7 separate regions of the Homo sapiens genome follow, and regions 1, 2, 3, 4, 6 and 7 are each linked to region 5. Evidence: fine-mapped expression QTL. A gene starts in region 5. Each other region holds a variant in brackets. All regions are shown on one strand. Distances are from middle to middle.

Evidence for each region.
Region 1: its variant is fine-mapped to the expression of SLC44A5 in whole blood (TOPMed, PIP above 0.99). The same link has a PIP of 0.9 or more in skeletal muscle.
Region 2: its variant is fine-mapped to the expression of SLC44A5 in whole blood (INTERVAL, PIP 0.95).
Region 3: its variant is fine-mapped to the expression of SLC44A5 in whole blood (TOPMed, PIP above 0.99).
Region 4: its variant is fine-mapped to the expression of SLC44A5 in whole blood (TOPMed, PIP above 0.99). The same link has a PIP of 0.9 or more in blood mononuclear cells, ileum, lung, lymphoblastoid cells and skeletal muscle.
Region 6: its variant is fine-mapped to the expression of SLC44A5 in whole blood (TOPMed, PIP above 0.99).
Region 7: its variant is fine-mapped to the expression of SLC44A5 in whole blood (TOPMed, PIP above 0.99).

The regions. Positions count from the first base shown.
Region 1 is chr1:75,394,094-75,398,093 of GRCh38, reverse strand. SLC44A5 (solute carrier family 44 member 5) reads left to right here. Exons shown (of 24, transcript NM_001130058.2): 3 at 1,473-1,511. Among named protein-coding and RNA genes, the nearest start is that of SLC44A5, 220 kb to the left of the region's middle. The variant C/A (reference allele first, on the strand shown) is at 1,632.
Region 2 is chr1:75,461,103-75,465,102 of GRCh38, reverse strand. All of the region lies in intron 2 of SLC44A5 (solute carrier family 44 member 5), which reads left to right. Among named protein-coding and RNA genes, the nearest start is that of SLC44A5, 150 kb to the left of the region's middle. The variant A/T (reference allele first, on the strand shown) is at 2,238.
Region 3 is chr1:75,468,929-75,472,928 of GRCh38, reverse strand. All of the region lies in intron 2 of SLC44A5 (solute carrier family 44 member 5), which reads left to right. Among named protein-coding and RNA genes, the nearest start is that of SLC44A5, 140 kb to the left of the region's middle. The variant C/T (reference allele first, on the strand shown) is at 2,406.
Region 4 is chr1:75,382,100-75,386,099 of GRCh38, reverse strand. All of the region lies in intron 3 of SLC44A5 (solute carrier family 44 member 5), which reads left to right. Among named protein-coding and RNA genes, the nearest start is that of SLC44A5, 230 kb to the left of the region's middle. The variant C/T (reference allele first, on the strand shown) is at 2,019.
Region 5 is chr1:75,608,875-75,612,874 of GRCh38, reverse strand. SLC44A5 (solute carrier family 44 member 5) reads left to right here and starts at 1,761. Exons shown (of 24, transcript NM_001130058.2): 1 at 1,761-1,835.
Region 6 is chr1:75,015,346-75,019,345 of GRCh38, reverse strand. No RefSeq gene overlaps it. Among named protein-coding and RNA genes, the nearest start is that of LHX8-AS1, 120 kb to the left of the region's middle. The variant A/T (reference allele first, on the strand shown) is at 2,391.
Region 7 is chr1:75,406,017-75,410,016 of GRCh38, reverse strand. All of the region lies in intron 2 of SLC44A5 (solute carrier family 44 member 5), which reads left to right. Among named protein-coding and RNA genes, the nearest start is that of SLC44A5, 200 kb to the left of the region's middle. The variant C/T (reference allele first, on the strand shown) is at 2,230.

The sequences.
Region 1 (4,000 bases), 210 kb after region 5:
CATTTTATTCATTTTATTCTACCTCTCAGGTGCCAATCCTTGCACGTACATACTATTTTAAGAAAATCAGCAAGGGATGGCCATTTTATATTTTGGGCACTTCATTTAGCTTTTTAAATGGTAAGTGTGAAACCTGTATGTCCCTAATAATGCTTACCATCCTAATGAATGTGGGTCAGCATTGCTAGTTTTAAAGGTGTGTGTGTGGTGGTGGGGAATATCCTGAAAATGTTATGAGTAATCTTTATTTTTCTCATACATTTGACATTACTGGAGGCTAGTAGTTATATTGATTACAAATGGACTCTGGAGCACACAGACCTAAGTTTGAATTCCAGGTTCCCCACTTACTAGCAGTGTGACTTTAAACAAAGATTAGACCCAAAAGTTCACGTTGCCTCTGGGAACCTTGGATTCTCATTTTTAGAAGTGAACCGATTATTGTAACTACTGCAAGGCTTGTTGTGAATATTAAATGAGATAACATAAATGAAACATGGCACCTGGTGCATAGTAAGTGTTCAAAAGTTGGTTACTATTTTAATTATCGTTATTATTATTTTTCCCAAAGGAACACAATTTACAAATGTTCGCTTTCCCTGGAATCTTTACCCCAACTCTGACTCTCAATGATTTGCTACTGTTAGTCCGATTGATGAAAAATCAATGGGGAAACCAAGCATTGTAATCTCTGCCCATGAGGTCTATAGACGGAATTCTTTTCAATAGCTCTAATTAATGAGTTGGCAAGTCTGATAAAGCACCAGAGAATGGGGTGTTCATAGAAAGCATTAGTGTTTTTGTTTAACATATGTGACACTTGAAGCATTAGGATGCTGTTATTGTTCATTATGGCACGTGCCACCTCCCCATTCCCCAAAATTACCATAATTTGTACCTTCCAAATTGAATAGAGTCATTCATAGTTATCACATGGGAGTTTCTGTTAAAGCTAAAGGCCACACGTAGTGTGATTAAGGTGGGACTGCTGAATTCAAAATATATCTCTTTTCCCTAGGCTACACTGGCTATTCTGCATGTAATAAAAGGTATTTAATGCATATTAAGTTTTTCATGACTAATGTGTCTTCTGAAGTTTAAAGCAGGAACAGAAAATGAAAGTAAACAAAATGCCTCATTTCTTAGTAATGAATTTTTCAAGTCTCTACATATCACCTACATTATACAAGTCATAGATGCAAATGGAAGAATTAACAGCTTTATTTCATCATCCCCAAACCTCTTACCTCCAGCACCTTCATGAATTATTTTTTTGGTAACTTCTTAAGAATAAATGCTCATTATTGGCAGCTTTGTGTATAAAGAATTACTTCAACCAGTCCAACTGCCTTATGTTATTTTGTGTGTTAGTCTAAAGACTAAGATTTTTTAGGATAAGGAGAGATGTGTATAGAACCTCAGAGTCATCAGCCCCTACAAATATTTTTTTTGCCTTTTGTGCTTTTTCCTAGAAAAACCAGCAGATACTCCCTCTGAGGAAGAGGACTTTGGTAAGTCATAGTCTGAGTATTAAGTGCTAAGAATCTTTCATGACAGTCTATCCATTGAGAAATATGTGATTCTTTTAAAATCTAGGAATAGCGAAATATTTGTTTGGTAAAGAATAATTG[C/A]TGACTGAAGCTTTTTTTGGATTCTTCTTTCAACTGTCTGTTTCTCCTTCCTGAAAGGGTTCCCTCTTTTTGGAGTTGTAAATGAATTTCCCAGGAAAAACATCATGCAGCTACTGATGCTTTATCACCCCAGCTCACCTGACACATCTTGTCTTCTTTCCTTCCTTTCAGCTCAGTTTGTGACTTTGACACATGAGTCTTGTTCAAATCTCTCTCTCCAATAAACACCTTCACTCTCCAGCTTTCATGACACTATGTGTGTATTATTCAGTCTTCTTTTTCCGACAGCCGGCTCTCTCCTTAGTCAGCCCCATAGAGTTGATTCTTGCTACTCAAAGTGTGGTCTGTAGACCAGCAGCATGAGTAGGACCTGGGAGTTGGAAATTCAGCATCTCAAGTCCCATCCCAGACTTATTGAATCAGAATCTGCACCTTCAGAAGATTCTCAGGTGATTCATGTGCAAACAAAAATTTCAGCAGCACTGGCTTCAAGAATTTCTCTTCCTTTGTGCAATCTCATTGCCCCTGAGGTATATAAATAAGTACTTTTACTCGGTGACTTCCAACATTACTTGGATCCCCAATCTTCAAATAAAAGATTATTATATATGTGGTGAGAATGTTAAAAGTCCATTCTATTAGCAATTTTAAAATATGCAATACATTATTATTAACGGTGATCACCATAGCAAGGTGATGGATATGTTAATTAGCTTAACTTAATCTTTCTACAATGTATATATACATAGAGCAAAACATCACATTGCAACCCATAAATATACACAATTATTGTTTGTCGATTAAATAAATGTATAAGAAAATATGATCATACATGTACTTTCCTGCCTCTTTTCTCAAAACCCATTTATTGACTCTCATGTACTTTAATTTTACCTACTTAGATGCTGCTGTTTGTTCTCACACTTAGATAGCATTTTACAGTTTCAAAATTCCTTCATATAGATTTTGTTACTTAATCATATATGATCATATAAGGTAGAAAGGTAGGTAATAGAAACTTTTGTAGAGGCTATTTTGTAAATTTCCATTTGTAATTTTTTAATCTCAGGGGTTGAAATAAAAAGGTAAAAAATGTATCAGCAGATGGTTTTTTCCTACCTTAAAACAAAGTAGAGGTCAAGTCTTTTTTGTGCCATCAGAAGTCTGAATCATTCTGCCTCAAAATGTATCATGGGTCAAAATAATGTTTTTTGCTCAGTATGATCTGAGTTATGTTTTTATTCATATACCTTGTCTTCTCACTTGGAATAAAGTAATTAGGCCTAAAATAAAGCCCTCATCTTTCTCACAAGGTTTATGAGATAAATAAGCTAATGAGGAAAAACACTCCACTTCTGATATAAAGTAGCCCAAGGAGAGAAGTACCACTGAGTGCTGCTTCTGCTTGAATGGACAGAAGTAAAAGAAAGAGGAAAGGTTCAATATAGGATATTGTACTATGCCATTTCCATTCTCCCAGACAAGGTATTACTGGGATAACTCTGCTGAGTCATGGCCCAGGAGGAACTGTTGGTTTTGCATCCACTAAAAGTGCATCTCAGCAGAGGGAAACACTCCCAGATCCTAAGATCTGGGGTGCACTCAGTATTCAGGGGTGAGTGGATAAACAGGCCTTGGATTTCAATTGGGTGGATGATGGCATTTTTGTCTTTTCTTTTTGGTTCATTCACTCCACATTTACACTTCTTTTTAAGAGCCTGATATTAAAGAAAGCTTAACTGTGCTAACAATGGGGGTAAGCTTGGGAGAACTGGAGTGTTATTGGTGTTAACCCATAGGACACATTCTTCAACAGCCTTGTGTTCCAAAGAAGCTGAGGCCCACCAAAGCCAGTGGCTCGTTTCACTTCCTCTTCTGTTACAGGGAAGGGTTGACCTCATCCTTTCCAAGGCTCATAGTACCTCTATCAGCATTGCCTCTTCAAAGACTTTGCTCTTGCAATTATCCCCTCTCTCTCTTGCCTACATGTAAATATGCCTTAATACAGCCGCCTGAAATTTATTTAAAAAAAATGATCAATTAACCCTTTCATCACGCTAAAACTCAAAAGAATTGTTTATAGGCATTGACTCCACTTTTCTCCTATTCTCTCATTAACCCACTCCAACTGGAGTTGTATCTGCATTACTTCATGAAACAGTTTTTTATCATTTCCACAGACTTGTATCTTGCTCTTCCATTACAGAATTCTTTTCCTCACCTTACTCTCTCTCAGCAGCATTTAGCATGCTCAGCCACTCTACTTTTTTAAACTTTCCTCTTCTGCTTCCAAGATACCACACTCTCCTGGGTTTCCTCCTGACTCTCTGATCTCTCCTTCTCTGGCCAGTCGCTCACACTTAAAGTCT
Region 2 (4,000 bases), 150 kb after region 5:
GCTGATGAACAAAAAATGTGTATTCTGTAGCTCTTGGATAAAATGTTCTGTAAATATCTATTAGATCCATTTGGTCTATAGTGCAGATGAAGTATGATGTTTCTTTGTTGATTTTCTGTCTAGAATATCTGTCCAAGGCTGAAAGTGAGGTGTTAAAGTTTCCAGCTATTATTGTATATTGTACTGGGGCCTCTCTCTTTCTTTAGCTGTAATAATATTTGCTTTATGTATCTGGGTGCTCCAGTGTTGGGTGCATATATATTTAAAATTGTTATATTCTCTAGCTGAATTGACTCCTTTATCATTATACAGAGACCTTTGTCTCTTCATATAGTTTTTGTCTTGAAATCTATTTTGTCTGATACAAGCATAGTGACTCCTGCTGTCTTTTGGTTTCCAATAGCATGGGATATCTTTTCCCATCCCTTTATTTTCAGTTTATGTGTGTATTTTTTGTAGGCAACAGGTTATTACTTCTTTTTTTTCCCATCCATTCAGTCAGTATATTTTGACTGAAGAGTTTAGTCCATTTACATTCAACGTTATTATTAATAAATAAGGACTTCTGTCATTTTGTTCTATGTTTTCTGCTTGTTTTGTGGTCTTTTCTTCCCTTTCCTTCCTTTTAATGAAGGCGATTTTCTCTGGTGATGTGATTTAATTTCTTGCTTATTTTTTGTGTATCCATTGTATGTTTTCTGGTTTGAGGTTACCATGAGGCTTGCAAATACTATCTTATAACTCATATTTTAAGCTGATACCAACACTGTTTCATAAACAAACAAGCAAAAAGAAAACAAATAAAGACTCTATGCCTTAGCTTTGTCCTCCTGCTTTTTACCTTTTTCTTCTTTCTTGCTTTTTTTTTTTTTTTTTTTTTTGAGACAGAGTCTCACTCTGTCGCCCAGGCTGGAGTGCAGTGGTGCAATCTCGGTTCACTGCAACCTCCACCTTCCAGGTTCAAGTGATTCTCCTGCCTCAGCCTCCCGAGTAGCTAGGACTACAGGTGCATGCCACCATGCCCAGCTAATTTTTTGTGCTTTTAGTAGAGATGGGATTTCACCATGTTAGCCAGGATGATCTTGATTTCCTGACCTCATAAACCTCCTGCCTTGGCCTCTCAAAGTGCTGGGATTACAGGCATGAGCCACTGCGCCCGGCCTCTTGTTTCTATTTATATCTTATTGTGCTATGTCTCAAAAAGTTGTTATTGTTTTTGTTTGGTTCATTGTTTAGGCTTTCTACTTAGGATAACAGTAGTTTACACACCACAGTTACAGTGTTGTAATATTCTGTGTTTTTCTGTGTACTTACTATTACCAGTGAGTTTTGTAACTTCAGATGATTTCTTATTACTAATTAACATTCCTTTCTTTCTAAGTGAAGTACTCCCTTTAACATTTCTTGCAGGATGAGTCTAGTATTGATGAAATCCCTCAGCTTTTGTTTGTCTGGGGAAGTCTTTATTTCTCCTTTATGTTTGAAGGATATTTTCACCAGATATATACTATTCTAGGGTAAAAATTTTTTCCTTTATTGCTTTAAATATATCATGCACTCTTTCCTGGCCTGTAAGATTTCCACTGAAAAATCTGCTGCCCGACATATTGGAGCTCCATTGTACGTTATTTGTTTCTTTTCTGTTGTTGCTTTTAGGATCTTTTTTTTTTTTTTTTTTTTTTTGAGACAGAGTCCCGCTCTTTAGCCCAGGCTGGAGTGCAGTGGCACAATCTCGGCTCACTGCAAGCTCCGCCTCCCAGGTTCACGCCATTCTCCTGCCTCAGCCTCCCGAGTAGCTGGGACTACAGGCGCCTGCCACCGCGCCCAGCTAATTTTTGTATTTTTAGTAGAGACGGGGTTTCACCGTGTTAGCCAAGATGGTCTCGATCTCCTGACCTTGTGATCCGCCTGCCTCGGCCTTCCAAAGTACTGGGATTACAGGCGTGAGCCACCGTGCCCAGCCAGGATCTTTTTTTATTAATCCTTGATCTTTGGGAATTTGATTGTTAAATGCCTTGAGACAGACTTCTTTGGGTTAAATCTGCTTGATGTTCTATAACCTTCTTGTCCTTGAATATTGATATCTTTCTCCAGGTTTGGGAAGTTCTCTGTCATTTTCCCTTTGAATAAACTTTCTACTCCTATTCCTTTCTCTACCTTCTCTTTAAAGCCAATAACTATTAGATTTGCCCTCTTGAAGCTATTTTCTAGATATCGCAGGTGTGCTTCATTTTTTT[A/T]AAAAAATTCTGTTTTCTTTTGTCTCTTCTATGTATTTTCAAATAGCCTGTCTTCAAGCTCACTAATTCATTCTTCTGCTTGATCATTTCTGTTATTAAAAGACTGTGATGCATCCTTCAGTATGTCAATTGCACTTTTCAGCTCCAGAATTTCTGCTTGATTCTTTTTAATTATTTCAATCTCTTTGTTAAATTTTTTCTGATAGCATTTTGAATTCCTTCTCTGCGTTATCTTGAATTTCATTGCATTTCCTCAAAACAGCTTTTGAATTCTTTGTCTGAAAGGTCGCATATCTGTTTCTCCAGGACTGGTCCCTGATGCGTTATTTAGTTCATTTGGTGATGTTGTGTTTTCATGGATTGTCTTCATTCTTGCAGATGTTCATCTGTGTCTGGGCATTGAAGAGTTAAGTATTTATTCTAGTCTTCTCAGTGTGGGCTTTCTTGTACCAGTCTTTCTTGGGAGGGCTTTCCAGGTATTCTAAAAGACGTAAGTGTTGTGATCTAAGCTGTATTTGTTTTAGGGGGTACCCAAAGTCCAGTAACACTGTGGTTCTTGCAGACGTGTAGAGGTGCCACCTTGATGTTCTTGGACAAGCACTGGGAGAATTCTTTGGATTACCAGGCAGACTCTTGTTCTCTTCCCTTACTTTCTCCCAAACAAACAGAGTTTATATCTTTGTTCTGAGTCAACTGGAGATGGGGGTGGAGTGACATAAGCACCCTTTGGCTACTACCGCTAGGAATGTCCTGGGTCAGACCTGAAGCCAGCACAGCACTGGGTCTTGCCCAAGGCCTGCTTAACTACTCCCTGGCTATGGCCTATGTTTGCTCAGTGCCATAGGGCTCTACAGTCAGCAGGTGGCAAAGTCAGCCAGGCCTGCGTCCTTCCCTGCAGGATTGTGATTTTCTCCAGGACCCAGGAGGGTCCATAGGTGTTGTTTGGGAGCCAGGAACTAGAGTCAAAAACCTTAAAAGGCCATCTGATGTTCTATTGTACTTTCCATTTTTCCCTCCCCTTTCCAAAGGCAGAGGAGTCTTATCCCATACCCACCACCACTCCAGGCCATGAGGAGTACTGGCAGATTACTACCAATGTTCCCCCTAAGGCCCAAGGGCTTTTTAGTCAGCTTATTGTGAATGCTGCCTGGCCTTGGACTCACTCTTTAGGGTAGTAGGCACTCCTCTGGCCGAGAGCAGTTTCAGAAATGCTATCCAAGGGTTTGCTTTGTATTTTTATTGGACAGTGCTGGCCTAGACAGTAACTCAATAATGAGAATTTTATGTTTTCTTTTGCTAGGAAAGAGCTATTTAGTCACCGTGGCTAGCAAAATTTGGTGACTTGGTTGACTTGGACAAATGGGATCCTCAAAACACAATTAAATATATCTAATGTCCTGAGACACACCACTCATAATAATATTAATAGTTACTCCAGTGAACTAATAATATTATTTACCTCTTTGGATTTTATAAGGATTCAATTAAGATAACACGTGTGTGAAGGTTGTGACCTAAATAATATTATCTTACAGGGAGAAAGGTGCATGTGAAAATTGTCAGAGATGAAAATGGTTAGGGAACAATTTTAAAACTATTTTCATACCTGATGTATAGTAGTAATGTGCTCGATTATCTGTGGAATTAATTTGATCATCAGAGAAGAGATCTCTTTTGGTTTATGTGAAGACTTTGTATGCCAAAAGCATTTTTTGTGTTGCTATATAATCTTTGTAAACATTCTTGTAAATGGTGCATGACAT
Region 3 (4,000 bases), 140 kb after region 5:
CCACAAAGATTATAATATGTGTAAGAGTGAAGGCTTGCCACTTGTTAGTCTATGAGAAGGATTTAAGTATAGAGGACACGGTGGTCTGCAAAACATTATAGGACTTGTGAAATGAGGACAGGGCTGCAATGCTTTTGAGGACACTCGGGTTGCCAGAAACACAAATCCTAGTCCTCATAAATACCACATTTGTGCTTTAATCATAAAAATTCTATTGAGACTAACCTTTCAGTGAGGGAATATTATCTAAAGAGAGCACAGTCATTTCAGCTGCTAAATGAAAAACTTGTATTTTATAAGCCTAGAAAAAAGTGAGTTGAATGTTATCATAAGATAACACATGGTCTTGAGGCACCCTGGGGCGCTGATATCTCACTTCACAGCGCAAGCTCAAAACACTCCTAGCTTGCTTAATAATTGTCAAAGTTATTTTAATTTGAACCATAACCAATTATTTATGTAAAAGAACTGTAAGAATGATAGTAGGAGAGCAAGAACATGAAAATTTATTTTTTTTCAGGCTTGTTGAGATTAATGAACCCTCAAAGATGTTATTAACTTTGCAGAATGGGTACCACATCTAAACAGCTATGCATTTCAAAATACCTTGGCTTTCTTCTCAAAAGAAAGAATTAAGTTGATACTCATGACTGAATCAGAAAGGTACTACTGACAGGTGCTCGGCACACTTTCCCCTGCATGACTCACCCTAAAGATACCTTATTTTTTCCATGAAGCCTTTTTATTCTCATATTTTTCTTTGGTCTTGTTTGAAAGCTCTATTCCCAGTGGCTTGAGAGAAGAAGAATAAACACCCAGGCCCCAGTAGTTTTTTTTTTTTTTTTAAACCCAGGGGGATATGCTCTGCCTATTGTCCTGAACACTAGCCAAAATCCTACTAAAATACAATATCTAGTATTGCCAAATCCTGCTTAGAGAGACATGAGAAACCTGAGAGTTCCTTCCATGGCTTGCCACAAAACAGATTATGGGTCTGGAAAATAAAAATAACCAGGAAGTGGCATTATAAATATAGATCAGAGAAAAAAAAGCCTTAGTGGTTCCTTGTTCATGGTCCTTAGGAATGTGCAGAAGTTTTGGACAGAGGATACAAACTAGCTTATTTGATCTTCTCTAGGCATAGGTAGAATAAGAGTAAATGCCCATAAGAAACTACACAAAGGGTTTAGAGACTGAGCTAAGAAAAAGCTGCCAGTCTGGAGTCAGTAGAAGAAAATTAAGAAATAGAGGGCAGTGGAATGCCAGAGAGAGGAAATACTTTGAACACATTAGCAAAGGAAAAATAGAAAAAAAATCATATTTGGAGAAGAGACATGAGCTCTGCCCGCATTCTCTTGAGATCTTTTGCTTGATTGAGGGCATGGGCTTTCCCCCTGCCATGATTGAGATAAAAGGCTATGATCAGGTAGAGGCAGTGCTTTGGAAGCTGCTTATGTCATTCCTCCCTCCTTTTCTTTTGTCCTGGTTCTGATTTAATTCATGGGTGTGTGTGTGTGTACGTGTGTGTGTGTGTGTGTGTGTGTGTTTTCATGCACACAAGCTTATGTATTAGATGGAGAGGGATTTGAAATTTTTCCTTGTTGAAAGGAAGGCTTCAAATGAAACAGCAATCCATCTCGCAGGAAAATTCCCATCCTGGGGATTCCCTTCAAGGCAGAAATTCAAGCAATGATGAGAAAGGTGCCCTTAGACTTGCCCAGTAATGAGATGTTACAAGCCATTAATTTTATGAAACTCCAAAGAAACACAGCCAGGCCGTAAAAAAAAGGTTAAAAAATAGATCTTCAACGAATCACTGAGAAAATACTAACTTTCCAAGTCCAGGGAATAAATTTGTCTGAGCCCTCTATTTTTCCCTCTCTGCATTATATTTGAAGATAGTTGTGTTTTGTTAGCTTTTTCATTTACCCCCAAAATACTTGCAAAATGCTTTAGTTTTAGAATTTTCATGTAATTGAGGAGTTAGAAACCCACCAAAGGTAGGGAGTCAAAGCAGAAACAGTTACTCAGATGCCTCTGGTAGCTATCCATTGTTCTAGAGAACAAGTCCATACTCGTAGCTTAAAAGGGATGGCAGGATGGCACTCTTATTTAACTCCTTACCCACATCTCTCCACCTGGACAGCCCCTCCCAACCCTCCCACCATACTTATCTCAGTTTTTCGACATGCCATGCCAGGTCACGCTTCTCTCTGGCCTTGGACATTCCATTTCCTCTGCTTCAAATTCCTTTCACTAGGCTAACACCTACTCATGGTGTAGGTTTAGCTTAGACTTCACTTTCTTCAGGAAGCTGACGCCAGTAACATTCCCTCCCCCTCACGTCTGGGTTATGGCCCCTCCTGCGTGCTTCCATTATACCTTCCCTATCTTGGTAGTCTTCA[C/T]ACTATATAATAATTTAGATGCCTATTTACTTGGCTGTAGTAGTCCTCACTAGACTATAAATTCTACCGTTATGTTACAGAAGAGCTCATACAACATAAACTACCTTTTGTGGAAGGATTATTTCAAACGTGGGGACCTAATTTTAGCTGTGGCAGTACGTGAGGAACATTTATAAGGTAGGGCACAACTGTACATTCACTTGGTTTCTCTTGAGTGCTCATTCTCTTCCATCTTTGAGTATGTTTTTTACTGCTGTTTTAAAGTATAGCCCTAGGGTTCTTGAAAACCAAAGCTTTTAGCTTCACGTGTAGACTTCATTCAATTTTTTTAAAAAGTATTGTCTTGAGGATTGATTGGTTTGAAAGCTTGGTTGTTATGAAAAGCTCTTATCTTTCCAGGGTTATTCCTTAGTTGCTCTTACAGAAACACCAAAACTGTAGGAATATCTTTAATATGCTGTCAAATAGAAAGGTTGGTGATAAATACTTGCCTCTAAAGAATGTTTTAGGAGCTTAGGAAATATGCAAGTCATCCGTGAAGCCCTCCTCCCTTTGAACTGCAATTTTTTATTATGGGAGTCAGGATACGTTGACTCTACTTTTTTTTTTTTTTTTTTTTTTTTCTTCACAAGGTCTCTCTCTGTCGCCCAGGCTGGAGTGCAGTGGTGTGATTATAGCTCACTGTAACCTCGAATTCCTGGGCTTAAATGATCCTCCCACCTCAGCTTCCTGAGTAGCTAGGACTACAGGCATACACCACCATGCCCAGATAATATTTACTTATCGTTCAGACAGCGTCTTGCTATGTCTCCCGTTGGTCTCAAGCAATCCTTCTGCCTCACCTCCCAGAAGGCTGGAATTACAGGCATAAGCCACTGTGCTCAGTCTGACTCTACTTTTTGTCTCAAAGCCAGGACACCTTATCCCAATGGCATAATATTTTTATTCCATTATACGCCGTACCATTTTAGTGATTTTTTCCCCTAAGTTCTACACACACTGGTTTCAGAATGATATTGCCAAAAGGAAAGAAGAAGAAATTCACTACACTTTTTTTTTTCTGGGAATGCTAGTAAAATCTGCATCTAAATTATATAAATGGTATTATTGTCTTCTTAAGTGGCACATGGTGTTACAGCTCACGCTTATTATGTCATCATTTACCTTTCATAAGTATTTTCAACATTCTTTTATCAATCAGTTAGTCTTCAACTGTGCTGTCCAAGATGGTAGCCTCTTTTCACATGAAGCTATTGAGCACCTGAAATGTGGCTAGTCTGAATTGAGATGAGCTGTAAATGTAAAATACAGACCAGCCTTCAAAGACTTGGTTAAAACAAAAAGGATTCAAAATATCTCATTTTTATCTCAAATAAATGAATTTATATTGATTACATGTTGAAATGATAATCTGAATATATTGGGTTGAGTAAAAGGCATTATTAAAATTAATTTCATCTGTTTCTTTTTACCTTTTTAATGCAGCTACTAAAAAATTAAAACTTGCATACCTGGCATGCAATATATATACATTTTTAATTTTTCATTTTAATTTTTGTGGGTACATAGCAGGTGTATATATTTATGAGGTACAT
Region 4 (4,000 bases), 230 kb after region 5:
TATTGGCTGTGGGTTTGTCATAGATAGCTCTTATTATTTTGAAATACGTCCCATCAATGCCTAATTTATTGAGAGTTTTTAGCATGAGGGGTTGTTGAATTTTGTCAAAGGCTTTTTCTGCATCTATTGAGATAATCATGTGGTTTTTGTCTTTGGTTCTGTTTATATGCTGGATTACATTTATTGATTTGCGTATATTGAACCAGCCTTGCATCCCAGGGATGAAGCCGATTTGATCATGGTGGATAAGCTTTTGGATGTGCTGCTGGATTCGTTTTGCCAGTATTTTATTGAGGATTTTTGCATCAATGTTCATCAAGGATATTGGTCTAAAATTCTCTTTTTTGGTGGTGTCTCTGCCCGGCTTTGGTATCAGAATGATGCTGGCTTCATAAAATGAGTTAGGGAGGAGTCCCTCTTTTTCTATTGATTGGAATAATTTCAGAAGGAATGGTAGCAGCTCATCCTTATACCTCTGGTAGAATTTGGCTGTGAATCCATCTGGTCCTGGATTCTTTTTGGTCGGTAAGCTATTGATTATTGCCACAATTTCAGAGCCTGTTATTGGTCTATTCAGAGATTCAACTTCTTCCTGGTTTAGTCTTGGGAGAGTGTATGTGTCGAGGAATTTATCCATTTCTTCTAGATTTTCTAGTTTATTTGCGTAGAGATATTTGTAGTATTCTCTGATGGTAGTTTGTATTTCTGTGGGATTGGTGGCGATATCCCCTTTATCATTTTTTATTGTGTCTATTTGATTCTTCTCTCTTTTTTTCTTTATTAGTCTTGCTAGCGGTCTATCAATTTTGTTGATCCTTTCAAAAAACCAGCTCCTGGATTCATTAATTTTTTGAAGGGTTTTTTGTGTCTCTGTTTCCTTCAGTTCTGCTCTGATTTTAGTTATTTCTTGCCTTCTGCTAGCTTTTGAATGTGTTTGCTCTTGCTTTTCTAGTTCTTTTAATTGTGATGTTAGGGTGTCAATTTTGGATCTTTCCTGCTTTCTCTTGTGGGCATTTAGTGCTATGTATTTCCCTCTACACGCTGCTTTGAATGTGTCCCAGAGATTCTGGTATGTTGTGTCTTTGTTCTCATTGGTTTCAAAGAACATCTTTATTTCTGCCTTCATTTCATTATGTACCCAGTAGTCATTCAGGAGCAGGTTGTTCAGTTTCCATGTAGTTGAGTGGTTTTGAGTGAGATTCTTAATCCTGAGTTCTAGTTTGATTGCACTGTGGTATGAGAGATAGTTTGTTATAATCTCTGTTCTTTTACATTTGCTGAGGAGAGCTTTACTTCCAAGTATGTGGTCAATTTTGGAATAGGTGTGGTGTGGTGCTGAAAAAAATGTATATTCTGTTGATTTGGGGTGGAGAGTTCTGTAGATGTCTATTAGGTCCGCTTGGTGCAGAGCTGAGTTCAATTCCTGGGTATCCTTGTTGACTTTCTGTCTCATTGATCTGTCTAATGTTGACAGTGGGGTGTTAAAGTCTCCCATTATTAATGTGTGGGAGTCTAAGTCTCTTTGTAGGTCACTCAGGACTTGCTTTATGAATCTGGGTGCTCCTGTATTGGGTGCATATATATTTAGGATAGTTAGCTCTTCTTGTTGAATTGATCCCTTTACCATTATGTAATGGCCTTCTTTGTCTCTTTTGATCTTTGTTGGTTTGAAGTCTGTTTTATCAGAGACTAGGATTGCAACCCCTGCCTTTTTTTGTTTTCCATTTGCTTGGTAGATCTTCCTCCATCCTTTTATTTTGAGCCTATGTGTGTCTCTGCACGTGAGATGGGTTTCCTGAATACAGCACACTGATGGGTCTTGACTCTTTATCCAATTTGCCAGTCTGTGTCTTTCCATTGGAGCATTTAGTCCATTTACATGTAAAGTTAATATTGTTATGTGTGAATTAGATCCTGTCATTATGATGTTAGCTGGTTATTTTGCTCGTTAGTTCATGCAGTTTCTTCCTAGTCTAGATGGTCTTTACATTTTGGCATGATTTTGCAGCGGCTGGTAC[C/T]GGTAGTTCCTTTCCATGTTTAGTGCTTCCTTCAGGAGCTCTTTTAGGGCAGGCCTGGTGGTGACAAAATCTCTCAGCATTTGCTTGTCTGTAAAGTATTTTATTTCTCCTTCGCTTATGAAGCTTAGTTTGGCTGGATATGAAATTCTGGGTTGACAATTCTTTTCTTTAAGAATGTTGAATATTGGCCCCCACTCTCTCCTGGCTTGTAGGGTTTCTGCTGAGAGATCTGCTGTTAGTCTGATGGGCTTCCCTTTGAGGGTAACCCGACCTTTCTCTCTGGCTGCCCTTAACATTTTTTCCTTCATTTCAACTTTGGTGAATCTGACAATTATGTGTCTTGGAGTTGCTGTTCTCGAGGAGTATCTCTGTGGCGTTCTCCGTATTTCCTGAATCTGAATGTTGGCCTGCCTTGCTAGATTGGGGAAGTTCTCCTGGATAATATCCTGCAGAGTATTTTCCAACTTGGTTCCATTCTCCCCGTCACTTTCAGGTACACCAATCAGACGTAGATTTGGTCTTTTCACATAGTCCCATATTTCTTGGAGGCTTTGCTCATTTCTTTTTATTCTTTTTTCTCTAAACTTCCCTTCTCGCTTCATTTCATTCATTTCATCTTCCATTGTAGGGGTGGGTTGCCCCTACACACCTGTGGGTGTTTCTCGTAAGGTGGGACGAGAGATTTGGAAAAGAAAAAGACACAGAGACAAAGTATAGAGAAAGAAATAAGGGGAACCGGGGAACCAGCGTTCAGCATATGGAGGATCCCGCCAGCCTCTGAGTTCCCTTAGTATTTATTCATCATTTGTGGGTGTTTCTCGAAGAGGGGGATGTGTCAGGGTCACAAGACAATTGTGGGGAGAGGGTCAGCAGACAAACACGTGAACAAAGGTCTTTGCATCATAGACAATGTAAAGGATTAAGTGCTGTGCTTTTAGATATGCATACACATAAACATCTCAATGCTTTACAAAGCAGTATTGCTGCCCGCAGGTCCCACCTCCAGCCCTAAGGCAGTTTTTCCCTATCTCAGTAGATGGAGCATACAATCGGGTTTTATACCGAGACATTCCATTGCCCAGGGACAGGCAGGAGACAGATGCCTTCCTCTTGTCTCAACTGCAAGAGGCATTCCTTCCTCTTTTACTAATCCTCCTCAGCACAGACCCTTTACGGGTGTCGGGCTGGGGGATGGTCAGGTCTTTCCCTTCCCACGAGGCCATATTTCAGACTATCACATGGGGAGAAACCTTGGACAATACCTGGCTTTCCTAGGCAGAGGTCCCTGCGGCCTTCCGCAGTTTTTGTGTCCCTGGGTACTTGAGATTAGGGAGTGGTGATGACTCTTAAGGAGCATGCTGCCTTCAAGCATCTGTTTAACAAAGCACATCTTGCACCGCCCTTAATCCATTTAACTCTGAGTTGACACAGCACACGTTTCAGAGAGCACGGGGTTGGGGGTAAGGTTATAGATTAACAGAATCTCAAGGCAGAAGAATTTTTCTTAGTACATAACAAAATGGAGTCTCCTATGTCTACTTCTTTCTACACAGACACAGTAACAATCTGATCTCTCTTGCTTTTCCCCACATTTCCCCCTTTTCTTTTCGACAAAACCGCCATCGTCATCATGGCCCGTTCTCGATGGTCGCTGTCTCTTCGGAGCTGTTGGGTACACCTGCAGACTAACAACAGACAAAACAGGCACACAAGGATTAATATGAGATTTATAATTGTAGTACTTCCAATGGTCTTAACCCAAGTGACAGGGTTAAGATTTGCGAGGCCATCAGCAACTCCTGCAATTGCCTCAGTTCCTGGCACCAAATTTAAATGGGCTTTTGATGCTTCGAAAATTTGTTCTTTTAATTTGGAAATGTCTAAAGTGAGATTATCTTCTCTTCCCTGTAGATGGCGTCTAACCATGTCCCAGTGATGCTCAGACTCATTATAAATTTGGGGTGTAATACAAAAATCTGACG
Region 5 (4,000 bases):
GTCTTATAAATGCAAGCTGGTTACATTGGTTATAATCACGTCACCACCCCCACCCCTGCCTTTTCCAATATTAGTACAACAAAGACTTCTTGCTCAATTACTTAAGTGTAAAACTTATGTTTAGGTTAATTTATTCATTTATTCATTTAGCACATATTTATTGAGCACTGAATATGTACCAGATTCTGTGCAAAACACTAGGGATACGGTAATGAACATGATAGACAATGAAGTAAGAGGAGGCCTGGAAGAAGCAGGTGACAAATAATATGAACCAGAAAATTTCACATAGTGATTAATACCAGGAGAAATAAAACAAAGTGATGTGCGAGCAAATGATTTTGAGGTTACTTTAGATTGTCTGGAAAGGTGGCATTTGTGTCGGGAAACAAGTGATGAAGAGTAATTTGCATGCCAAGAACTGGAACATAACACTTCAGGCCTTAAGGTAGAAATGAGGTGGTAGCTTGGCACATTCACATACAAAAGGAAGAGGTGTAATGTGTAAGGAAGAGACAGTTAGGGAGAAGCCAGGCCTTTTTGGTCATAAAAAGGAATATAGAGTTTAAGTGCAATGAGAAGCCATTGGATATTCACTTGCTATTTGGGGATACATTCCTCTCCTGGAAGATTATTTCAGGGAGAGGAGCATTCCTACATCAACTCCCTAGGCCAACTAAGGTGACCTAATAGACTTCACTTTTCTAAAAGGTCCAGTTATACTCACGTTATTTTCTCTTGCTATTCACCAGAATACCTATGCAATTTCAGGCTGAGATATTGATAGCATCTCTAGGAATCCCTGCTTAGAAAACAATTCTAGAGAGAATGAGGATTAATTTAACATTTAGTACAAGATGATAAGATTAGTCACTTCCCTGGCAAGCCTTTCAATGCAAGTAAGTCTTAGGAAAAACATATTGTAATGGTAGAGGGGGATTCTGAGGGGTCCAGAACATGACTGTGCAGTAGGCAGAATGTGGAAGGCAGCATGAGGGGCTCCTAGATAACAGAAAGGGGTCCACAGAAGGAGAAGAGTGATGTTTGGAAGGGGACATGAGAAAGCCTCTAAAACAACATCAGCCAATTCGTGATTTTGCCAAGTGGAAGCCTGATATGAGCATGTTCCAAGAGAAACATTCTCATTCAAACACAGAAAAAGTTTAAACCAGGGTACTTTTATGCTTTTGACTGATCTTTTTATAATGAAGCATTTGTAACAATAAAAGCACACAGATGTTTACAAAGTCTCTTTGATTTTACTTAATCACTGTCAGGTTGTTCTGATGGATTACAGACCTCACAAATGAAAATAGCATGAACATATTAATGATAACTGCTGTTTGTTGGAGGTAGTTGCTTGATAGCTAGTTAAGGAAATCATGCTCTTGGGTCTCATTTTACTGTAGAGATGTTGGTAAGTGGGATATGGGGTATATTGGATGATTTTCTTTCCCCTAAGCATTTGTGACAAGAAGGTGCTATGATATTCAGGAAAGACACAAATAATAGTAGATTATTTTAAAGGTAATCATGGCCTACTTCCACCTCCAAACTACCTACTTCTTTGCCAAGGATTAACAATGAAAAAATATACTATAGCTCCAGGACTTTGTTCAGTCTCCTCCCCCTCTTTATACTCCAAGTGACTCCTTTGAGGCTAGCAAGGCTAGTAGGACCTCAGGGATTACCTAAGAATGGGGTATGGCCCTTAGTGATACTGGAACACAATGTGTTTATGACATCAGCTTTTTTTTCACAGTAGTGAATCGTAGCATGTTAGAGTTAGAAGGTTCAGTGTTGATGGAGTTATTGAAGAAATGATGGAGTAAGAGGTGAGTGATACTGCTAAATGCAAGAAGTCTATGTCTGTAGGAAAATTGGTCAAGTTTGTTATTCATAAGTACGTATTCTATACAACTCAAGAAATACACACACACACACACATATATATAGTGAAGTCTGAATATAAATTAGGAACTGAGCACTTCCTCTCCGTGTGTGTGTGTGTATATATATAGATATCCTGGGGGATTATTTAAAGAGAGTAGTATTTTTACATCAGCTCCCTAGGCCAAGTAAGGTGACCCAATGGACTTCACTTTTCTAAAAAGTCCAGTTACACTTATGTATCTTCTCTTAATATTCACCAAAATATCGACAATATTTCGGGCTGAGATGTTGATAACATCTCTAGGAATCCTTACCTACTGGTATTCACACCTGTTCATACTCCCCTTCCAAAATGAATCACAGCTGACCATGTGATCAGTACTGTACAGCAGAAAACTACATCATAAAGACATACACTATGGCTTCTGCCTTGTTCTTTTGTATTCTTTGCTTTCTTATGTTGCTCATTTTGGGGAAACCAGATGCCATGTTTTAAAAATACTCAAGGATCCCTTGGATTATTTTTTGAAGCAGAGGTTCATACAGATATTATTAACATTTCAGCCCAAAATATTGTCGGTATTTTGATGAATAGTAAGAGAAGATACATAAGTATAACTGCACTTTTTAGAAAAGTGAAGTCCATTGGGTCACCTTACTTGGCCTAGGGAGCTGATGTAGAAATATTGCTCTCTCTAAATAATTCTCCAGGATATCTATGTGTATATAGGTATATGTATGTATATGTATATACCTATGGAGAGAGAAGAAGAGCTCAGTTCCTAATTTATATTCAGACTTCACTATGTGTGTGTGTGTGTGTGTGTGTGTGTGTGTGTGTGTGTATTTCTTGACTTGCATAGAAGTCTTGAATCTTAGCTCTGTGTGGGAAGAACTGAGGCCTCCTGCTAATAGCAACAACTTGCTAGTTATGTGAGTGATCTATCTTGGGAACAGACCCTGCAACCAAGTCAAGCCTTCAGATGACTGTAGCTTCAGCCAACATCTGACTGAATTTCATGATAGCCCCGACCCAGAGCTATCCAATCAAGCTGCTTCTGGATTCCTGAATCACAGAAACCATAAGATATAATAAATGCTTACTCTTGTCTTAAACCACTAAAATTTGGGGGTAATAGGTTACATAACATTAGATCATGAATATACCTGTGGTTCATTATTTTTGCACCTCTATCATGAAATGTAATATTTGTTACTAGTTCCAACACTGATCTTGAATCTTAGCCCTCTTTCCTATTTAGTGAATTGGGCTGAAACCCTGAAGTTCTCTTTTCTTGTTTCCCTTGAGTTTCTTGTAGCAGCTTGCTTTCTCCTCTGCTTTTTTGAGTACTGATTCCTGGCTCCTCTAGTTCATTTAGTTTAGAAGATACTTTCCAAATTGAAGCACTACCGAACCAAAAATCAGAGTGATAAAGAGAATACAAAAGCCCTAAAATCTCCCAACAGCACAAGATTTCACAGTCCTCCAAACTAAGAAGATAGAAAGTTTCTTAAAATCTACAATCTTTTATTCTCACCATCAAAAATAAGAATGTAAGGTAATGAATATGTTAAATAGCTTGATTTAGCCATTCCACAATGTGTATATATATCAAAACATCAGGTTTCACACCATAAATATATAAATTTTTACTTGCCAATTAAAAAAGAAAAAACCCAAAGAAATGAAACCCTAAAATATTCAAATAAAAACCTTTCCAGCTGTATTTATCTATTCCTCCTTACCAAAGAATCCCTTCCTCCTCCCAGCCCAGTTAGTCCTTTGAGGTATAAATAGGAGACTGAGAAAGAGGATTTAAGAAAGGAAGGTTGCCGTCTCTTCTACTTGAGAGTAGGATATTAATCTATTTTATTCGTTCATGTAGTTCTCTATTCATTCAATAAGTGTTAATCAATCGCTTACTATGTACTGGGCACTATTCTAAGCATGCTTGGGATAAATCAGGGAACAAAATGAATTCTTCATGAGGTTTACACTATACATAGGGAAGACAAACAATGAATAATAAGCATGAATACATTGTTGATATTAAAAATTGAAAAGTGCCATGACAGAAAGAAAAAAAAATGAGCATAGTAAGGGGGA
Region 6 (4,000 bases), 590 kb after region 5:
AAAAAGGAAAATTTAAAGACAAAATAAAAAATAACATTCTTGGCTCATAATAATTCCCTAACAGTGCCATGGGTAAGTTTTCATTCAGCCAATATGATCATCAAAGAATCCTGGATTTTAATGAGATAAGTATCTTGGAGATCAAACGATTGACAGAAATGTCTCCTTTCATAATGTGTCAGGCTTCAAAATCCAAGTGGATCCTGCACTTTTCTGTAGTTTAAAGATATGTGAACATTACATGGAAAATACTTTCATTGTCCATTGCCTGTATGTTAGTTACAGGGCAAGGCATTACTTATGCTATTTGCTAAACTGCCTGGAACACGATTAGGGTATATAAAAATATAAAATAATTTGAAGACCATAGTCATCAGTATTAATAAAGATTGATCATTTATTATTTCCTATCATTGTTATTCAACCTAATTTTCCAGGAAACTTAGGGACAAGTGACAGAGGAAGGAAAGAGTTCGGAGTGGATGATAATGTCACTGTGAATGAACTGTAGCAAGATTATAGTCAAAGAAAGGCCTAGCCTACCCTTGATAGAGAGGAGTAGTGTTATCTCTAAAGATAATTATCATTCTGGACCTAAAGCAGTTCTAGAGATCTTTTTTGGTGCTTGGTTCTGGGTTTATGGAAAAAGAATAAGACAGGTTTCAGTTTTGGCCCAGCTTTTCCAGCTGTGTGATCATAGATAAACATATTACTGACACTCTCTGGATTTGATTTTTCTCACTCATAAAATTTAGATTGAGATCTCTGTGGCCCTTTCCAGCTTTAAAATTCTAGGATTCTAGAAGAGAATAAACAGGGGGAAAGTACTTAGGATCATAATCAAATTTTTAGCAACATACCCCCAACCCCTCCACCTGTTCCTAGAATAACCTTTTGGAAATAATGTCTTTAGGCTTTCAAGGTCCTGTCTATACATATGTGTGGGAGGAGGAGGAACATCTATTAAGCACTTACGTTAAATGTCACTTTCTCCAATAAGTTTTCCCTTATCGCCGATCTCCTGCATACCTCTTAAAATAGTTATTTATGGGAAGGTCAGTAGTACTTATGTAAAGTCAGAATTTGGTTCTTGGCTGGTAATTATGGAGGAAAATTTGGCCAAATTGAATGATATTGAACAATGTACATATTTTATTCCTTTAGTCATGGCTGATAGACCTATGTTCCTTAGGAAAACAAAGTAGGTTTGGATGTTTATTTTGAATTTTTAATGTTTGATTACTTTTGATATTTGCTCTTTCTTTTCTCAACTTTTATTTTAGTTTCTTTTCCCAACTTTTATTTTAGTTTTAGGGTTATAGGTACAGGATGTGCAGATTTGTTACATGGGTAAACATGTGCCGTGGTGGTTTGCTGCACAGATCATCTCATCACCTAGGTATTAAGCCCAGCATCCATTAGCTAGTCTTCCTGATACTCTCCCTCCTCCCACCCCAGACCTGTTGGAGGACAGGCCCCAGTATGTGTTGTTCCCCCTCACGTGTCCATGTGTTTTCATCATTCAGCTCCCACTTATAAGTGAGAACATGTGATGTTTAGTTTTCTGTTTCTGTGTTAGTTTGATGAGGATAATGGCTTCCAACTCTTTCTATGTCCCAGCAAAGAACATTATCTCATTCCTTTTTATGGCTGCATAATATTCCATGGTGTATATGTATCACATTTTCTTTATCCAGTCTATCACTGATGGACATTTACTTTGGTCCCATATCTTTGCTATTGTGAATAGTACTGCAGTGAACATATGTGTGCATGTATCTTTATAATAGAGTGATTTATGTCCCTTTGGGTATACATGCAGTAATGAAATTGCTGGGTCAAATGGTATTTCTGCGTTTAGGTCTTTGAGTATTCACTACACTGTCTTCCACAATGGTTGAACTACTTTACGCTCTCACTAACAGTGTAAAAGTGTTCCTTTTCCTCTGCAGCCTCTCCAGCATCTGTTGTTTTTTGATTTTTAATAATAGCCATTCTGACTGGTATGAGATGGTATCTCATTGTGGTTTTGATTTGCATTTCTCTAATGATCAGTGATGTTGAGCTTTTTTCATATGTTTTTTGGCCACATAAATGTCTTCTTTCGACAGGTGTCTTTTCATGTCCTTTGCCCACTTTTTAATGGAGTTGTTCATTTTTTTCTTGTAAATTTTTTTTAAGTTCCTTGTAGATGCTAGATGTTAGACTTTTGTCAGATGGATAGATTGCAAATATTTTCTCCCATTCTCTAGGTTGTCTGTTCACTCTTATGATAGTTTGCTGTGCAGAAGTTCTTTAGTTTAATTAGATCCCATTTATCAATTTTTTCTTTTGTTGCAATTGCTTTTAGCATCTTCGTCATGTAATCTTTTCCTGTGCCTATGTCCTCA[A/T]TGGTATTGCCTAGATTTTCTTCCAGGGTTTTTATAGTTTTGGGTTTTACATTTAAGTTTTTAATCCATCTTGAGTTGATTTTTGTATATGGTATAGGGAAGGGGTCCAGTTTCAATTCTCTGTATATGGCTAGCCAGTTTCCCCCCACATCATTTATTTAATAGGGAATCCATTCCTCATTGCTTGTTTTTGTCAGGTTTGTCAAAGATGAGATGGTTGCAGATGTGTGGTCTTACTTCTTGTTCTCTATTCGGTTCCATTGTTTTATGTGTCTGTTTTTGTGCCAGTACCATGCTGTTTTGCTTACTGTATCCTTGTAGTATAGTTTGAAGCCAGGTAGCCTGATGCCTCCAGCTTTGTTCTTTTTTCTTAGGATTGTCTTTTTTGGTTCCATATGAATTTAAAAATACTTTTTTTCTAATTCTATGAAGAATGTAAATGATAGCTTAATGAGAATAGCATTGACTCTATAAATTGATTTGGGTAGTATGGCCATTTTTATGATATTGATTCTTCATATCCATGACCATGGAATGTTTTTCTATTTGTTTGTGTTATCTCTGATTTCTTTGATCAGTGGTTGGTAGCTCTCCTTGAAGAGATCCTTCACTTCCTTTGTTAGCTGTATTCCTAGGTAGTTTATTCTTTTTGTGGCAATTATAAATGGGAGTTCATTCATGATTTGGCTCTTGGCTTGCCTGTTTTTGGCGTATAGGAATGTTTGTGATTTTTGCACATTGATTTTGTATCCTAAGACTTTGCTAAAGTTGCTTATCAGCTTCAGAAGCTTTCTCAGCCAATGCAAAAGAACTGAAATCATAACACATGACCTCTCAGACCACAGCACAATCAAATTAGAACTCAAGAACAAGAAATTCACTCAGAATCACACAACTATTAATACAAGGAAATTGAACAACCTGCTCTTGAATTATTCTTGAGTAAATAATAAAAATAAGGCAGAAACCAAGAAGTTCTTTGAAACTAAAGAGAACAAAGATACAATGTAACAGAGTCTCTAGGACAGTTAACACAGTGTTGAGAGGGAAATTTATTGCACTAAAAGAGGGAAATTTATAGCACTAAATGTCCATTTTAAAAAGCTAGAAAGACCTCATGTTAACAGCATAACATCACAACTAAAAGAACTAGAGAACTAAGTGCAAACAAACTTCAAAACTAGCAGAAGACAAGAAATAGCCAACATCAGAGATGAACTGAAGGAGACAGAGACACAAAATCCCTTAAAAAAATCAATGAATCCAGGAGTTTTTTTGGGGGGGGCCAGAAAAAATTAATAAAATAGACCACTAGCTAAACTAATAAAGAGAGAGAAGAATCAAATAAACACAATCAGAAATGATAAGGGTGATATCACTACTGACCACACAGAAATCACAGAAATAATAATAATAAAAAACAATCAGAGAATACTATGTAAACACCTCTATGCATAGAAACTAGAAAACCTAGAAGAGATGGATAAATTGCTGGACACGTACACCCTCCCAAAACTGAATCAGGAAGAAATTGAATCCCTGAAGAGACCAATAATGAGTTCTGAAATTGAGGCAGTAATAAATAACCTACCTACCTATCAAAGAAAGCC
Region 7 (4,000 bases), 200 kb after region 5:
AGAGCATTGAGAGGTAGGAACAGGTGAAAAATGTGAGCTGAGGAATCCTGGAAAATGTATGCTTGTGTGTATTGCAAGTATATATGTATGTATGTATGTCATGTAGGATGTTAACTGAAGTGGCAAAAGCTACTAGACAATCAAGAGAATAAGTTCTGAAACAACCTTGGGCTGAAGCTGCCTTGGGCATGATTCTTAAAGAGGCATTGGGAGACTCCTGCCCTACATAATTATCAATGACCATCTGTAGTAGCATTGTGTTTTGGGAAGTGATACCATTGGGTATATTTTGAGGTGCAAATGTTTGCTTCATAGTTCAGGCTATTTCCTGAAATATCAATAATTTTAAAAATAATTATTCTAAATTATTTTAAATAATAAACAATTAAATATATTTGTATTATTTTCATTTATTCAACCAAAACTCTCTAAATATTATTCTCTTTGCTATCTGGACTGAAGTATTGTAGGGCCATTTTCTGGCCCTTTCTCTGTTGCCTTTCTCTCTTTTTGAACACTCACTCTGTTCTAACAGGGTAGCACTAGAAACAACAAGACCCTGTCTCTTCTGAATCAATCACCTTTCTTTTTTAAAAAAAATTAGATTCAAGGAGTACACGTGCAGGTTTGTTACATGGATATATTGACTAATTCTGGGCTTTAGGCCTCTATTGAACTCATTACCCAATACATTCTGTAGGTGTACTCACCCAGAAAACACATACCCAGTTATATATTCAGGGTACTAAACAATAGGCTATGTGAGAAGGACTCATGGACTTCCTGTAGTGAGCACAGGACCCAACAGGTTATTTATCAAACCTTGCCCCCATCTTTTAGAGTCTCCAGTGTCTATTGTTCCCATCTTTATGTCCATGTGGACTCATTGTTAAGCGTCCATTTATAAGCGAAGATGTGGTATTTTGTGCGTTTATTCACTTAGGATAATGGCCTCCAGCTGCATCCATGTTGCTGCAAAGGATGTGATTTCATTCTTTCTTATGGATGCATAGTTGGATCAATCACCTTTTATTTTCATCCCCCTATTTTATTTTCATATAGCACCATCTTTCAGAACTTCTTTGGTCTGTAAGGAAAGGCATTAACATTCAACAAGTACCTATTAAGTGACAGTACCTGTGTAGTGAATATTATTATTATTATACTTTAAGTTCTGGGATACATGTGCAAAACGTGCAGGTTTGTTACATAGGTATACATGTGCCATGGTGGTTTGCTGCACCCATCAACCCATCATCTACATTAGGTATTTCTCCTAATGCTATCCCTCCCCTAGCCCCCCAGCCCCCGACAGGCCCCAGTGTGTGATGTTCCCCTCCCTGTGTCCATGTGTTCTCACTGTTCAACTCCCACTTATGAGTGAGAACATGTGGTGTTTGGTTTTCTGTTCCTGTGTTAGTTTGCTGAGAATGATGGTTTCCAGCTTCATCCATGTCCCTGCAAAAGACATGAACTCATTCTTTTTTATGGCTGCATTCCATGGTATATATGTGCCACATTTTCTTTATCTAGTCTATCATTGATGGGCATTTGGGTTGGTTCCAAGTCTTTGCTGTTGTGAATAGTGCTGCAATAAACATATGTGTGCATGTGTCTTTATAGTAGAATGAGTTGTAATCCTTTGGGTATATACCCAGTAATAGGATTGCTGGGTCAAATTGGTATTTCTGATTCTAGATTCTTGAGGAATCACCACACTGTCTTCCACAATGGTTGAACTAATTTACACTCCCACCAACAGTGTAAAAACATTCTTATTTCTCCACATCCTCTCTAGCATCTGTGTTTCCTGACTTTTTAATGATCACCATTCTATCCAGTGTGAAATGGTATCTCATTGTGGTTTTAATTTGCATTTCTCTAATGACCAGCGACAATGAGCTTTTTTTCATATGTTTGTAGGCCACATAAATGTCTTTTTCTGAGAAGTGTCTGTTCATATCCTTCACCCACTTTTTGATGGGGTTATTTGTTGTTTTTCTTCTAAATTTGTGTAAGTTTCTTGTAGATTCTGGATATTAGCCCTTTGTCAGATGGATAGATTGCAAAAATTTTCTCCCATTCTGTAGGTTGTGTGTTCACGCTGATGATAGTTTCTTTTGCTGTGCAGAAACTCTTTAGTTTGATTAGATCTCATTTGTCAATTTTGGCTTTTGTTGGCATTGCTTTTGGTGTTTTAGTCATGAAGCCTTTGCCCATGCCTATGTC[C/T]TGAATGGTATTGCCTAGGTTTTCTTCTAGGATTTTTATGGTCTTAGGTATTACATTTAAGACTTTAATCCATCTTGAGTTAATTTTCGTATAAGGTATAAAGAAGGGGTCAAATTTCACTTTTCTGCATATGGCTAGCCAGTTTTCTCAACATCATTTATTAAATAGGGAATCCTTTCCCCATTGCTTGTTTTTGTCAGGTTTGTCAAAGATCAGATGGTTGTAGATGTGTGGCATTATTTCTGAGACCTCTGTTCTGTTCCATTGGTCCATATATCTGTTCTGGTACCAGTACCATGCTGTTTTGGTTACTGTAGCCTTGTAGTATAGTTTGAAGTCAGGTAGCGTGATGCCTCCAGCTTTGTTCTTTTTGTTTAGGATTGTCTTGGCTATATGGGCTCTTTTTTGGTTCCATATGAAATTTGAGTTAGTTTTTTTCTAATTCTGTGAAGAAAGTCAATGGTAGCTTGATGGGGATGGCATTGAATCTATAAATTACTTTGGGCAGTATGGCCATTTTCATGATATTGATTCTTCCTATCCATGAGCATGGAATGTTCTTCCATTTGTTTGTGTCCTCTCTTGTTTCCTTGAGCAGTGGTTTGTAGTTCTCTTTGAAGAGGTCCTTCACATCCTTTGTAAGTTGGATTCCTAGGTATTTTATTCTCTTAGCAGCAATTGTGAATTGGAGTTCACTCACGATTGGGCTCTCTGTTTGTCTGTTATTGGTGTATAGGCATGCTTGTTATTTTTGCACATTGATTTTGTATCCTGAGACTTTCCTGAAGTTGCTTATCAGCTTAAGGAGATTTTGGGCTGAGGCGATAGGGTTTTCTAAATATACAATCATGTCATCTACAAGCAGAGACAATTTGACTTCTTCTCTTCCTATTTGAATACCCTTTATTTCTTTCTCTTGCCTGATTGCCCTGGCCAGAACTTCTAATACTATGTTGAATAGGAGTGGTAAGAGAGGGCATCCTTGTCTTGTGCTGGTTTTCAAAGGGAATGCTTCCAGCTTTTGCCCATTCAGTATGATATTGCCTGTGGGTTTGTCGTAAATAGCTCTTATTTTGAGATACGTTCCATCAATACCTAGTTTATTGAGAGTTTTTAGCATGAAGGGCTGTTGAATTTTGTTGAAGGCCTTTTCTGCATCTATTAAGATAATCGTGTGCTTTTTGTCATTGGTTCCATTTATGTGATGGTTTATGTTTATTGATTTGCATATGTTGAACCAGCCTTACATCCCAGGGATAAAGCCGACTTGATTGTTGTGGATAAGCTTTTTGATGTGCTGCCGGATTTGGTTTGCCAGTATTTTATTGAGGATTTTCACATCGATGTTCATCAGGATACTGGCCTGAAATTTTCTTTTTCTGTTGTGTCACTGCCAGGTTTTGGTATTAGGATGATGCTGGTCTCATAAAATGAGTTACAGAGGATTCCCTCTATTTCCATAGTTTGGAAGAATTTCAGAAGGAATGGTACCAGCTCTTCTTTGTACCTCTGGTAGAATTTGGCTGTGAATCTATCTGGTCTTGGGCTTTTTTTGGTTGGTAGGCTATTAATTATTGCCTCAACTTCCGAACTTGTTATTGGTCTATTAAGGGACTTAACTTCTTCTTGGTTTAGTCTTGGGAGGTTGTATGTGTCCAGGAATTTATCCATTTCTTCTGGATTTTCTAGTTTATTTGTGTAGAGGTGTTTACAGTATTCTCTAACAATAGTTTGTATTTCTGTGGAATCGGTGGTGATATCCCCTCTATCA